Linked DNA regions of Homo sapiens: region 2 is linked to region 1. The links come from fine-mapping of genetic effects on gene expression. A gene starts in region 1. The other region holds a variant in brackets. All regions are shown on one strand. Distances are between the middles of the regions.

Region 1 (2,900 bases):
GGTGAGGAGAGGTGCATGGGCCCCAGGAGAACCACTGGTCATCATAGGTCCCTCCTCCTGGGGCTCTCCTCGAGGTGGGGGTTGGGGGCAGGGTGCGCATTGAAGGAGGCGCAGGGAAAGTGCTCAGCCCACAGAAAGAGAGATGGAGGCGGCCAGTCAGGCGAGGAAAGCGTGGGCTTGGGCCGCAGAGCCTGCTGCAGGGTCTGGCCAGTCACCACCACGGCGGACACCAACATCTCCTGGCAGGGTTGTCCCTGACCCCTGACTCCCTGAGCCCCCCATGGCCCGCGTTCCCAGTCCCAGACTGGCAGCCTGTAAGCCACTCTCCTACCCTGAGCCACGTGACTGGCCCTCCCTGGTTTACCCCTTCCAACGTCCTTGCCCTAGCCAGAGCGATATGGGGTTCCCATTGGTGAAAAACGGCTCAGCAAAGGCGCTAAGCCAGTCCTGAATGCAGAGCCAGGCGCTTGGCACTTTCTGGAGAAGAGCCCGGCTCTGAGGCTGGGACCCCAACCCTCGGGCGCACATAAATCGCGGCCTGTGACTTGATTTCGGGGGTCACCGACCGACCCCTCACGCTATCCGTGGGCCCTGAGCTGGTGCTGTTACCCCAGTGTCACAGAGAAACCCTGGGGCATTATTCGTGCCCCTCCCGCAGACCGCCCAGTTCTGCAGGCTGGGACCGCCCGCCCCGCCCTCTGCCGCCCCTGCCGCCCCTGCCGCCCCTGCCGCCCCTGCCGCAACCCCGCTCTGGCCCCGCCCCAACCCGCCAGTCCACACTCATGTCCCGCCCCCCAGCCCCGCCTCCCCTCTCGGACCCGCCCCGATATGGCCCCGCCCCTCCGGCAACCCCGCCCTAAACTCGGACCAACAGGGGGCCCCAGCCCAGCCCCGCCCTCTCCCCAGCCCCGCCCCGACAGGGCCTCGCCCCCATCGGCTCACGAAGGCCAACGGCTTCCACGGCTCAGGCCCGAATCGAGACTGTCCTCCAGCTCGCGTCCTTCACGCCCGCTCCTTCCCCTCCGGCACTGGGGGGCACCGCGAGACTCTTACCCTCGCGGTCCCGCCAGCTGGGTCCTCCTATGCAGTCGCCAGCTCCCTTGCGCTGAGCCCGGCGCCAGCGGCGGCGCACGCCCGGAGGACTTCCCGCGTCACAGTCTCTTGTCTCCGCGGGCAGCAACTGTCTTAGACAGCGCCGCTGGTGTAGTGGTATCATGCAAGATTCCCATTCTTGCGACCCGGGTTCGATTCCCGGGCGGCGCACTTAGTTTTTTTTCCCATTTGAACATCGAACTCTCGCTAACGCCAGAAATTTAAAAGTAGAGAAAACCCGAAACCAAGGGAAGGCGCCCAGTCTGGCGCAGCGCTGACACAAATTTCGGAGAGTGACACAGGTGCCCTGAAAACCCTGGACGGCCATGGGCGACAGGGTGCCTGAGCTGAGGCGCCTGTAAACCAGCAAGCCAAGCTCGCCGTTCAGTCCCCTGCCTGGGACCGCCACACACCGCTGAGCCGCTCCCCACCGTGCCTCTGGCGACTGCTGGTCCTTTAACAGGAGGCGCGCGTGCTCCTGGGAGTTGTAGTTTATCAGCTTCCGACGTGCCCCGCGGTATCTGGACTACAGCTCCCGACGTGCCCCGCGGAAGCCCGGCCACCGCCCCCGACGCGACCCGCGCCGCGTCCGCGGCGGGGAGTTGTTGCTGCCGCGATGCTGGTGGCGGCGGCCGCGGAGCGGAACAAGGATCCCATCTTGCACGTGCTGCGGCAGTACCTGGATCCGGCCCAGCGTGGCGTCCGCGTCCTCGAGGTGGCCTCGGGCTCCGGCCAGCACGCAGCGCACTTCGCGCGGGCCTTCCCCCTGGCCGAGTGGCAGCCGTCGGACGTGGACCAGCGCTGCCTGGACAGGTGCGGCCCCCGGGGCGGCCACTTCTATCGGTGCGGCGGTCCGGGGCCTCAAGAGCCCACGGCCCGCAGCCCCGGAGGAAAAGGATGCGGCTCGGGCTCTGAGGGTGCGGGGTGGGAGCCTGGGGGTGCCCCCGGGGCAGGCCCTAGCTGTGCGGCCCCCGCGGCTGCGGAAGTGGGTGGACCTCGGGGTCCCCCTTCCCAGCCGCTTTGGTCTCCGCTCCTCAACGTGCCCCCCAGCCTCCCCTAAGAAATTCTGTGGGGGCGTCGGAAAGGCGGGTGCACAGGACTCGGCCCCCACCCAAGCGTTCGCCTCCTGCAGCATCGCGGCCACCACGCAAGCCCAGGGCCTGACCAACGTGAAGGCCCCGCTACACCTGGACGTGACGTGGGGCTGGGAGCACTGGGGCGGGATCCTGCCACAGTCGCTGGACCTGTTGCTCTGCATCAACATGGCCCATGTCAGCCCCCTGCGCTGCACGGAGGTCTGTGGGGAGCCCAGCATGGGTGTCTGCCGTGGCACCACTCACCCTGCATGGGGGCAGCTGGGATGCCAGATTTGCCCCCATCACAGTCGGGGTGAGGGTCTCCAGCCTCCCCCATCACAGTCGGGGTGAGGGTCTCCAGCCTCCCCCATCACAGTCGGGGTGAGGGTCTCCAGCCTCCCCCATCACAGTCGGGGTGAGGGTCTCCAGCCTCAGGGCCTGGCTTCTGTTGGGGGCAGCACCTCACTGCCGTCCTGTTCCTACTCACCAGGGGCTCTTCAGAGCAGCAGGACACCTGCTCAAACCCAGGGCCCTGCTCATCACCTACGGGGTGAGTGGGCCTGTCCACGGCGGGCCTCCCGCTCCCAGTCCTAGCTGCTGTCTCCTGCCCTGCTGAGAGTCCTCCCTCCTGGGCTCCCTGCCCCCCGCCCAGCCACCAGCACGGCCTCCCCTCCACTTCCAGTCTGTACCCCTCCCTGGGTCATCTGCCAGCCTCCCTACCCCCTTGCCCAC
Region 2 (2,900 bases), 190 kb after region 1:
ATCTACCAAAAATACAAAAAATTAGCCAGAGCTGGGCATGGTGGTGCATGCTTGTGGTCCCAGCTACTCGGGAGGGTGAGACAGAAGGATCGCTTGAGCCCGGGAGGCAGAGGTTGCAGTATACCAAGATTGTTCCACTGCACTCCAGCCTGGGCGACAGAGTGAGACCCTGTCTCAAGAAAGAGAAAAAAAGTTTGTTGTGCACGTTCGGCAGGTCAAATGGTGAACTTCCTTGTAGGTGGCCTGGGTAGTGACCTGGCTTCCATGTTGTCAAGGAAGGTGTGCCAAGACTAGACCATGGTAGCAGGCAGAATTCTAAGACCCCCTCTCTTGAGTGTGGGCAAGGCCTGTGCATGTGGTGGCACAGTCACTGTGACGAGGTTAACTTAATCTTTAAAACAAAATTTTTTTTTGAGATGGAGCCTCACTCTGTCGCCCAGGCTAGAGTGCAGTGGCACGACCTTGGCTCACTGCAACCTCTGCTTCCCGGGTTCAAACAATTCTCCTGCCTCAGTCTACGCAACAGCTGGGATTACAGATGCCCGCCATCACGCACGGCTAATTTTGTATTTTTAGTAGAGACAGGGTTTCACGATGTTGGCCAGGCGGGTCTCAAACTCCTGACCTCAAGTGATCCACCCAACTCAGCCTCCCAAAGTGCTGGGATTATAGCTGTGAGCCACTGCACCCGGCCTAAAACTTTTTTTTTTTTTTTTTGAGATAGGGTCTCCCTGTCACCCAGGCTGGAGTGCAGTGGTGTGGTAAACACAGCTCACTGCAGCCTCAAGATCCTAGGCTCAAGCGATCCTCCCACCTCAGCCTCCTGAGTAGCTGGGACTACAGGTGTGAGCCACCACACCTAGCTGTGATTTATGTTAACTTAAGACTCCATCGTAGCAGCCTCCTGGTCTCAAAGAAGAAGTAAGCTGCCATACCTGGGAGGACCATGTGGTTGAACCTGAGGGTTCTCCAGGACCTAAGAACCATTTCTGGCAAACGACCAACCAGCAAACAGGGTCCTCAGTTCTATAACCTCAAGGAGCTGAATTCTGCTGAGCACCTGAATGAGCCCGACACTCTGTCCCGCCTGGTGACAGCGCTGTGAGACACTGAGCTGGAGATATACAGGACTGCATATTCCAGGCAGAGG[G/A]AATAGCTACTGCACAGGCCTGGAGGAGGATGTGTGCCTGTGGAGTGTCAGGAGCAGAGTGAGCAGGGGGCCGGCAGCTGGAAGTGAGGTTGGAGGGGCAAGAGGGCCAGAGCATAGCATGAGGAGGACTCTACTGTGTAGAGTGTGGTGGTCTCAGCGGACAGAGCAGGACCTAGCTATCTTTGGGAGCCATTATTTGGCCTACCACAGCCATCTTACTTTTTAAATTTCAGGTATAATTTCCATCCTGTTTTTATTTACTTATTTATTTACTTATTTATGTTATTCAATTTTTTTTTAGACAGAGTTTCACTCTTGTTGCCCAGGCTGGAGTGCAGTGGTGCGATCTTGGCTCACCGCAACCCCCACCTCCCAGGTTCAAGTGATTCTCCTGCTTCAGCCTCCCGAGTAGCTGGGATTACAGGCATGCACCACCACGCCCGGCTAATTTTGTATTTTTTTTTTTTTTTTTTTTCTTGAGACGGAGTCTCGTTCTGCTGCCCAGGCTGGAGTGCAGTGGCACCATCTCGGCTCACTGCAAGCTCCGCCTCCTGGGTTCACGCCATTCTCCTGCCTCAGCCTCCCGAGTAGCTGGGACTACAGGCGCCCGCCACCATGCCCGGCTAATATTTTGTATTTTTATTAGAGAAGGGGTTTCACCGTGTTAGCCAGGATGGTCTCGATCTCCTGACCTCGTGATCCACCTGCCTCGGCCTCCCAAAGTGCTGGGATTACAGGCATGAGCCACCGCGCCCGGCCTAATTTTGTATTTTTAGTAGACGGCGTTTCTCCATGTTGATCAGGCTGGTCTCAAACTCCTGACCTCAGGTGATCTGCCCACCTCGGCCTCCCAAAGTGCTAGGATTACAGGCATGAGCCACTGCGCCCGGCTATTTTTTTGAGACAGTTTCCCTCATTGCCCAGGCTAGAGTGCAATGGCGCAATCTCGACTCACTGCAACCTCTGCCTCATGGTTTCAAGTGATTCTCCTGCCTCAGCCTCCCAAGTAGCTGGGACTACAGATGCGCGCCACCACGCTCGGCTAATTTTTGTATTTTTAGTAGAGATTGGTTTCACCATGTTGGCCAGGCTGGTCTCAAACTCCTGACCTCACATGATCCGCCCACCTCGGCCTCCCAAAATGCTAGGATTACAGGTGTGAGCCACTGCGCCTGGACAATACGCTTTTTCATATGTCAAATTTTCTTTACAGTTTTTTTTCTTTTTCCTTTTTTAATTTTGTTCCACTATTTTAAATTGTCAGCGTTATTTTTCACAATTCATTGTGCCTGGCCCGTCCTGTTGTTTTAAATTAGTTGACCTGAAAGCTGAATGTAACCCTTTGTTCTCACCCTTTCTTCAGATGTGCTCATGTTGTTCACATTAACCAGACAACAGTCTGAGCATGAGTCTCTTAATGAATTTCTGTAGGGAGACAGGTATAATTTATACGTTTTAGTCTTCTTTTCTTTTTTGGAGATGGAGTCTCGCTCTGTTGCCCAGGCTGGAGCGCAGTGGCGCGATCTCGGCTCACTGCAACCTCTGCCCCCCGGGTTCACACCATTCTCCTGCCTTAGCCCACTGAGTAGCTGGGACTATAGGTGCCTGCCACCACGCCCGGCTAATTTTTTTGTACTATTAGGAGAGACGAGGTTTCACCGTGTTAGCCAGGATGGTCTCGATCTCCTGACATCGTGATCCACCGCCTCGGCCTCCCAAAGTGCTGGGATTACAGGTGTGAGCCACTGCG

Evidence for each region. PIP is the estimated chance that this variant, and not a neighbour inherited with it, causes the effect.
Region 2: its variant is the best candidate, but not a certain one, in a credible set for the expression of METTL26 in cerebellum (GTEx, PIP 0.83).

The regions. Positions count from the first base shown.
Region 1 is chr16:635,099-637,998 of GRCh38, reverse strand. It overlaps METTL26 (methyltransferase like 26), which reads left to right and starts at 1,694. Exons shown (of 6, transcript NM_032366.5): 1 at 1,694-1,905; 2 at 2,225-2,387; 3 at 2,659-2,718. The coding sequence starts at 1,709. TRG-CCC2-2 (tRNA-Gly (anticodon CCC) 2-2) reads left to right here and starts at 1,193; the gene lies at 1,193-1,263. It overlaps LOC100287175 (a long non-coding RNA gene), which reads right to left and starts at 1,047. Exons shown (of 4, transcript NR_149003.1): 1 at 943-1,047. RefSeq lists enhancers at 1-664, 2,095-2,754 and silencers at 1,683-1,802, 1,853-2,032.
Region 2 is chr16:447,464-450,363 of GRCh38, reverse strand. The region is part of intron 1 of RAB11FIP3 (RAB11 family interacting protein 3); the gene reads right to left. Among named protein-coding and RNA genes, the nearest start is that of RAB11FIP3, 23 kb to the right of the region's middle. The variant G/A (reference allele first, on the strand shown) is at 1,151.